2 separate regions of the Homo sapiens genome follow, and region 2 is linked to region 1. The links come from fine-mapping of genetic effects on gene expression. A gene starts in region 1. The other region holds a variant in brackets. All regions are shown on one strand. Distances are between the middles of the regions.

Region 1 (4,393 bases):
TGTATTTAATCTTCAAAATAACATTAAGTAACTGTGTGTCTGCTAGAGAGGATGCTCCAAGAAAAAGGTGATTCAGACCTTACAGGGACCAATAGACTGGCCTCCCTAGCAAGAAGTGAACCAGACATTGTCCAGACTTGGCAACCACTATCTAAGTTTTTTGCATCTATGGTCTGATAAAATTTAGTCAAATATTAATGAGTGACTGTCTTGTACACACAGAGCCCCATTCTTGGCTATGGTGAGTGGTAGAGTGGAAGTAGCACAGAGTGACCATTTACTGAGCATCTACTATGAGCCAGGATCAGGGCCTGATGTTGAGGATATGATGGTAAATAAGACCACACACCCGCTTTCTTGTTTATATAACAAGAACAATAATAATTAGGATAATTAACAATTACTGCGTATGTACTATGTGCTGGACACTCTTCTAAGCACATCCCATGCTCCAGTTCATTTAATCTTCACAACTACACTGTTATTAACTTCCTTTTACAAGTGAGGAAACAGAAGCCAAGAGAGGTTAAGAGAGTTGTCCAAGGTCACAGACACAGGGGGAGATAGAGCTGGAACTCAAACCTAGGCAGTCTGGATCCAGAACCTCTGAATCAGTGAATTACTCCCAATAACACTGGGTTGCAGGCATTAATCCTGTTTTATAGCTGAGGAAAGTGACACTCCAAACAAAAGTAAGCACATATTTATTTTTCACCTTCTATTTGATAGAGACTATATTAGGTGATTTATGTATATTATCTCTCCAACTTGAAAGACACAGTTCCCAGGACTATAAGCATTCTAGCTCTGGAGGACCCGTGTATGCAGAGAATGGCTTGCTTGTTTGTCAACTAAACAGCCCCTTGGAAAAGGCCAAGAGTGGCTGGCTGGGCGAGGGTACCTCTCAGTCTCCAGGCTCCTAGATCTCCAGATGAGTGAGTGAGAGAGCTGGTGGAGATAAGAAAGAGAGAGAATAGGAGCCTAGTCTTTTTTCTCTCTCTTCCTCCACCCACACCCTACCTCCTGTATATTATAACTATATTTAACATCCTATATGCTCCTAGATCCTCTAAGCAACTACTGCTACCCCCAATATCCCTAAGCCTGGGCCTCCTCTAGCATTAGCAGACTGGAAACTTGGTTAGCTGGCCTTTGGGGTGTCTGAGTCCCACAGTCCACAGCTGCCTTATCTTAACCCACCTTATGGCCACTCAGGCCACAATCCCTGGGCTGGATGCACCTTGGTCCACCACTGTCGCCTGTTATCTATGGGAAATGGTACACTCCAGATTTTGTTTTAAATATGTACAGGTTTTGTTTTGCCCTTGATCTTTCTTAAATTTCCAAAGTGAGCACCACACCAGTGGGCTGGCCCTGAGAGACTGCCTCTCTCAAATTTCCAGAGCAGCAAGGAAGTCCATATGTGCCAGGAAGGCAACACTGGAGACAGGACATTAAGTGTTTCCCAACCTAGGCAGGTATAGACTCAGAAAAGGCCTGAGAAAGGAGAGGAGCAATACTGACCAGTGACATGGCACTGTTGTGTACCCAGCACCTGTCCCCTGAAAGATGATGCCAGGAGCCATCACCTTATTTCACCCAGGCACTATCAGTCAGGCAAGACCAACTCCCAGACACTTCACAGAAGTCACCAAAATGAAACATACTAGGCTATCACTGAACAGTCCTAAACTAGAAATCTTAAATTCCAAACAAGAAGCATTCCAAACAAGCTCTGCATAAGAAAGGAAAAGTTCCTAAAGATCCCTCTGATTAAGATGGTCTTAACCTAATCCTCCTTTGTCTTCATCTCTCTTTCCGCCTGTCTTCTCTCTCATTCTTTTCCTCACGTTTTTGACACTAGCCTCTATTTCATCCAGTTGTTCATCTATTCCAACTTTTAGGTTGAGGTAGGAGTGGATGGCAAGGGGAGGTGCATCCTTTGCTCTTCTACACCCACTCTACCACCACCACCTTTAAACCCACGGAAGCAAACCCCACTTACAGCCCCTTCTCCGTTGCAGCCTGCTGCTGCCGCTGCTGTGTGGAATCCAGATCTTCTGCAACCTGGTTTGGGTGAGCTCTCCCATCTCTGGAGACATCTTAGGAGTCGCACCGAATGACATCACTGCCCACAAGGTACCTGGCCTCACTTCCTATCTTACTAGCTGTCTTTTCTCTCGCTGTGGCCACAGCAGCAGGTGGACAGGGCTGGGACAGGGGGTGTACTGGGTTTCTGAGCCCTCTCAAAGTCTGTCTTCAGTCCCCTCTCTTCTTTCCTCTGGTCCTAGCCTGCCTCTGCTCCTGTATGTACTAGTGGGGTATTGGGTGCAGAGGGCGAGAGGTTGGGCAGAGGTCAGGAGAGGCCTCTGAACTCCAAGGGCTGTGTACATAGGAGGTAAGTTGGAGCCCAACAAGGAAGGCAGCCAGCAACACAGCCCAGGTCTGACCAGTCACTTCCCTCCAATGAAGACAAGACTAATAGAGTATGCAAATAAAAGACCAAAGATCATGTGCTTACAGCCTGTGTGGGGTATAGAGGCAAAGGTGATGGAGGTAGGTCTCAGCGGCTTTCCCAGCTTTGAAATAAAAAAATGGGCCCAAGTAGAATGTCAAGCTCCAACCCAGAAACCAAGATTCACATCAGAAATGCAAGGTTCCCAAGGACAAAAACACAAACACAAAGTCCCTACTGGGGAATGCAGTGTTTTGAGCTGGCAATTAGAGGCCCAAACTGGACATGGAAGGTCCACTACTTCTCTGCTTCCCCGACCCAAAATGGCATTGCATCCCTTGTCTTCTCTGGATTCTGCTGCCTTCCTTGCCACAGGGCCTCTCCCACCTGAAATGTGCTGCCTGGAGCACTCTTGAAGAGATGGGCACTATCCGATCATCTTTCTACTCTCTCCAGCCAAGGGCTAAATAAATAGGAGTAAACTGACACCTTTGGAAGAGTGCAGCCATTGCCTGGGGCTGGAGGTGGGGGAATGGTAAGCTCTGCCCACATGGCTGTTAGCCACCATCAGATGCCCTAAGGAGAATGACACTGGCATCATGAACTGATAGAAAATTTCACTAAAGTTCCTCATGCCAAGCTATTAGGATGGAGATTTAGGAGGGTGGAGGCTGCAGCAGGGAACAGAGAGCAATGGCCTCAAAGTAGGACAAGTCCATAGGCCAGAGTCATCCAGCCCAGATGACTCACTCTCACCTGCCCTCTCCCGCTCCCCTGACCCGTTGTTTTGAGGCTTTTATGTGTATAACTCATAGAACTGCACAGCTTGCCTCGAAGATGCACAAGTGTCCTCTTACTTCACTCTTTTGCAACCTTCCCACCCCCAATGAACCTCCAACGATTGGCTATGAAGAAGCTCAACTTTCTTCCACTGAGCTGGGCTACACAAGGGCAATCTCTTGGGGACAGAAATTTCCAATCCCTGCCCTCAAATGCTCTCAGTTCCACTTTGCCTTTTAAGAAGTTCCCTAAAATACATTTGCAAGCCGTAGTCTACACAAGGGTCAGATTCCCTCCAGTTGTTGTGTATAAATCATACCAAATTTTTAATACATTCCAGAGCCCACCTATCTAAATGAATCAACTGAGATAGCAGATCATGATGGTTAAGAGCAATAGGCTCTGGAGCAATATTTCTTGAGTGGAATCCTACCTCTGCCCCTTGTTGGCTATGAGGCAATGAGCAGAAGACTAAACTTTTCAGTGCTTCAGTTTTCTTATCTGGAACATGGGAATGATAGGAGTACCTACCCTCCTTAGGACTGTTGAAGATTCAATGTGTTAAAAAATGTAAAGCAATCTGTGAAATGTTAAAAATATATTATCTAACACTGTTACTCCCTTTGGGAGGTAAATGATCAGACACCTCCTTGACTAATCTGAAACTTCTAATATAATGCTGACCATACAGAAAACTCTCAGTTAAGGAAACTTACAATATTATGGGAAAGGGTTAACATTTATAATACACAAAGAGCTCCTGCAAATCAATTAGAAGGATGAATTTGGTTTTACTCTTTTGATTTTGTGTAAAGACTTGCAAGATCATTTCATCTCACCCTCTCAGGTAAGAAAACTGAGGTCTAGAAATATTTTCCTAAGGTCATGTAGTAAATCAGTGGCCAAGTCAGGAATAGAACACTAGGGACCTAATTTCTCCCAGGCCAGGGCTTTTCTTTAATTAATCAAACAAGCCTGATCTAAGAATGTGGTCTTACAGGTTAGCTCAGAACCTCTAGAGTCTCAGAACTAGACTTTGTAAGAGATACAACTCTTTTAATTCTAATAAATTTCCTAACTGGTATAAATCTGTTAATATTAATAATCTTAATTATAACCCTTTCCCTGTATGTTTTCCATTGCCCACAAAGCAACAAC
Region 2 (4,393 bases), 560 kb before region 1:
TCTCCCAGGCTGGAGTGCAATGGCGCCATCTCAGCTCACTGCAACCTCTGCCTCCCGGGTTCAAGCGATTCTCTTGCCTCAGCCTCCAGAGTAGCTGGGACTACAGGCATGCAACACCACACCTGGCTATTTTTTATTTTTGTATTTTTAGTAGAGATGGGGTTTTGCCATGTTGGCCAGGATGGTCTCGATCTCTTGACCTCGTGATCTGCCTGCCTCAGCCTCCCAAAGTGCTGTGATTACAGGCGTGAGCCACCGCACCCGGCAGGTCCCACCACCTTTTAACTAACTGCCCCTCAGTCCCCTCATGTCCTCACTTCTCTCCTTACCCAGCATGGTAGGCAGAATTATCTGATGACCCCCATAGTATCTCTACCCCATTATTATGCCCTGTATAATCCCCCTTCCCTTGAAGGGGGTGGTCATTGTGACTTGCTTCTAACCGATAGAATATGGCCAGGATGATAGGATTTCACTCCTCTGATTTGCCCTGCCCCTACCTCTCTCTCTGTCTCTCTCTAGATATAGCTATGGCTCCATCTTGCTAGCATGCAAAGAACTCAAACTGATGGCCTTGAAGAAGCAAGAAGCTGCTATGCTATTGTGTACTACCTATGGAGATGGCCACATGGTAGGCAGCCCCTAGGGTCTGAGGGCCTTAGTTCTACAACCACAAAGAATTAAATTCTGCCAACAACCATGTAAGTTTGAAAGAGGACCTAAACCTCATATGACGCTGTGGTCCTGGACAACATCCTGATTGCAGCCTGTGTGACCCTGAGCAGAGAATCTAGTTAAGCTGTGCCTGGATTTCTAACCCATGGAAACTGGGAGACAATATGTGTTTTTTTACAGCTGTTAAATTTGTAGTAATTGGTTATGTGGCAATACAAAACTAATACACTCAGCTTAGATTTCATTATTCATCATTGTAATCACTCCCTTGCAAACATCCTTACTATTCTAGCCCTTGTGGCCAACAGATGCTAAAGTGACCTCCAGTAATCCCCACCACCTGGTGTTTATGCCCTATGTAATCTTATCTTCTGGAGTGTCAGCAGAACCTGTGACTTGTTTCTAGCCTTCTAGACTATGGCAGGCCAGGTGCAGTGGCTCATACCTGTAATCCCAGCACTTTGGGAGGCTGAGGTGGGAGGATCTTTTGAGCCCAGGAGTTTAACACCAGCCTGGAAACATAGCAAGACTCTGTTTCTACAAAATAAATAAATAAATAAATAAATAAATAAATAAATAAATAAATAACGATAGAATATGGCAAAGGTGATGGGATGTCACTTTGCTGAGACTCCATCTTGGTATACTGGAGTTACAGAGACTCTTTTCTGTCAGCTTTGAAAAAATAAGCTGCCAAGTTATCACAGGGCCACGTGGCAAGGAACTCATTACTTGCAGTTGAGAGCCAACTCTGGATGAAAGCTAGCAAGAAAATGAGGACCTCGGTCCTATAGCTTCAAGATTAATTCTTCCTTGATATGATATAGGAGATATTAAAGAAACAAAAGATGAATTCTTCCAACAGCCTGAGGGAGCTTGGAAGCAGATATTTTCCCTAGTTAAGCCTCTGATGAGACTGCAGCCCCAGTTGACACCCACGATGCAGCCTAGTTAGACCCTGAAAAAGAGGACCCAGATAATTTGTTCCCAGACTCTTGACACACAGAAACTGTGAGATAATACATGTGTGTTGTTTTATGTCTCTAACTTTGTGGTAACTTGTTACACAGCATAGAAAACAAACAGCCCGTCTCTCTCATCTTTATACTCATCTGGCCAAACACAACCCAGGTTACTCTCTGCCTCTGTAAGAGAGCAGCTGAATGCTGTTAGAGAAAACAAAACAAAAAAACCCCACAGAAGCCAATGATTTCACTCTAAAGTATTGATTGCAGACCTCAAATAGGCATTAGTA[C/G]CTGGGACTTATAGCAATCCTGCTGTGATCACCTCTCCACTCTCAGAGATAATTATCATTTTTTTTTGAGGCAGGGTCTTGCTCTCTTGCCCAGGCTGGAGTGCAGTGGTGCAATCTCGGCTCACTGCAACCTCTGCCTCCTGGGTTGAAGTGATTCTCCTGCTTCAGCCACCTGAGTAGCTGGGACTACCAGTGTGCACCACCACGCCCGGCTAATTTTTGTATTTTTAGTAGAGATGGGGTTTCACCATGTTGGCCAGGCTTGTCTCGAACTTCTGACCTCAGGTGATCCACCTGCCTTGGCCTCCCAAAGTGCTGGGATTACAGGCGTGACCCACCGCACCTGGCTGATATACCATCTTTAAGAGCCCCCTTGAATACCATGAGCTCTTCCTACTACTGCCTATTTCTCTGTTCCTCTCATGCAAACCTTCTCCAGATGTAAGTTACATATTACTCTCTCCACTTCATCTCCCACTCTTCAACCAACTGCAGTCTAGCTTCATACCACTCCATAGAACCCACTCTTGTCAAAGTCACCAAAGACTTCATGTCAAATCCAACAGACAGGTTTGTTTTTTTTTTCTCATCCTACTTGTCTTTTCAGTAGCATCTGGCAATCAACAATCCCTCCTAGAAACACGTGTGTTTCTTCTCAGTCTCTTTTGCTGACCTCTAAATATTGAAGTTCTCTGAGCTTGTAGAACCAACTGCCTCCTTGTCATCGCCACTGGATTATCTCACAAGCACCTCAAATTGAACATGTCTAAAACAGAAATCTTGATATTCTTCCCCAAGTCTTTCCCTCCTCTCACCTTCTCCCATCTGTATAACCAGTAGTTATTGAACTAGAAAGCTGAGAATCATCCCTTCTCTCACCTCCTTTACACTCAATTTATTATGGAGTGCTATTGGTTCTACCTCTAAAATTTATCCTGAATTTGTCCACATCTCTCCGTCTCCACTATCTCTAATCTACACCAAACCACCATTGTCTCTTGTTTGAACTTTTTTTTTTTTTTTCAGATGGAGTCTCACTCTGTCACCCAGGCTGGAGTGCAGTGGTGCAATCTCGGCTCAGTGCAACCTCTGCCTCCCAGGTTCAAGCGATTCTCCTGCCTCAGGCTCCTGAGTAGCTGGGACTACAGGTGCGCACCACTACTCCTGGCTAATTTTTTTGTATTTTTAGTAGAGATGGGGTTTCACCATTTTGGCCAGGATGGTCTCAAACTCCTGACCTCAGGTGATCCGCCCACCTCGGCCTCCCAAAGTGCTGGGATTACAGGCGTGAGCCACCGCACCTGGCCAGGTTGGGGAATTTTTTGACCATGGCTGATTTCCAGGAATACAGGGTTCAGATAAGTTTCAACATTGTCAGTGGTTATTTCAGTTTCCCGAGGGGCTTCTTCTAGAGATTTCAATCTGGGATATCAGTTTGGGGGCTTATCTAGGCACTCTAGAGGCCTATTCTTGGGTTCAATCTGAGCAACCTGAGTGGACCACTTAGGGCTGTTATTGCAGGTCAGTCAGTCTGAGGTCCTAGCCTGAAGGACTCAATTTGTGACTTTAGTTTGGCAGATCAGTTTCAGAGAACTCTACCTGGGAATTTTAGTCTGTAGAACTCAGTTTGGAGGCTCTGACTGTGAGGGGTACTCTATCTGCTAGGCACAGTCAAGGGGCTCATTCTGGATATGACAGGTTGATGCTCCATCCAAGGTTCATTCTAAGGTTGGTAGTATGACTTTCTTCTGCAGAGCTCAGAGTATTGCTTTAGTATGGGGATCTGAAACTTAATTCTGCAAACTGAGTCTCTTGTACTCAGCTTGGGGAGCTTCTTCAGGGGCCTCTGGGGAAATCATTTTAGGGGTTTGGTCTAGAAACTGTTTGGGCCACCTGCTTTATGGTAGTCTGTCCAGAGGTTCAGGCACTGGTATACCTGAGATCAATCTCATTGTATTAGTCAGTCAGGAGCTCTGTCTGGATCACTCACTGTTGGGTGCTCAGCATGGGCATTCAGACTTTTTGTTTGTTTTGGTTTGTTTTGTTTTGAGATGGAGTCTTGCTCTGTCGCCCAGGCTGGAGTGCAGTGGAATGATCTTGGCTCACTGCAACCCCCGCCTCCCAGGTTCAAGTGATTCTCCTGCCTCAGCCTCTCAAGTAGCTGGGATTATAGGCGCACACTACCACGCCTGGCTAATTTTTTGTATTTTTAGTAGAGACGGGGTTTCACCATGCTGGCCAGGCTGGTCTTGAACTTCTGACCTCAAATGATCCACACGCCTCGGCCTCCCAAGGTGCTGGGATTACAGGCGTGAGCCACCGCACCCAGTGGCATTCACTCTCCTGAGAGAAGTCCGGGAGTTCCGAGTGAGTTCTGAGTGAGCTCAGGCATTGGCTCACTCAAGAGGGCTCAGCTGGCATCAGATGTGATTGCATGTAACAAAGAGACACCAAATAATGATG

Direction of the effects. Alleles are on the strand shown, and positions count from the first base shown. SD is a standard deviation of normalised expression in the study named.
In carriers of allele C in region 2, the expression in cerebral cortex of the gene that starts at base 2,283 in region 1 tends to be lower than with G alone (moderate effect, 0.45 SD a copy in GTEx).

Evidence for each region. PIP is the estimated chance that this variant, and not a neighbour inherited with it, causes the effect.
Region 2: its variant is the best candidate, but not a certain one, in a credible set for the expression of PFKFB1 in cerebral cortex (GTEx, PIP 0.62).

Annotation. Positions count from the first base shown.
Region 1 is chrX:54,991,906-54,996,298 of GRCh38, forward strand. It overlaps PFKFB1 (6-phosphofructo-2-kinase/fructose-2,6-biphosphatase 1), which reads right to left and starts at 2,283. Exons shown (of 14, transcript NM_002625.4): 1 at 2,006-2,283. The coding sequence starts at 2,102.
Region 2 is chrX:54,426,999-54,431,391 of GRCh38, forward strand. No RefSeq gene overlaps it. Among named protein-coding and RNA genes, the nearest start is that of TSR2, 11 kb to the right of the region's middle. The variant C/G (reference allele first, on the strand shown) is at 1,931.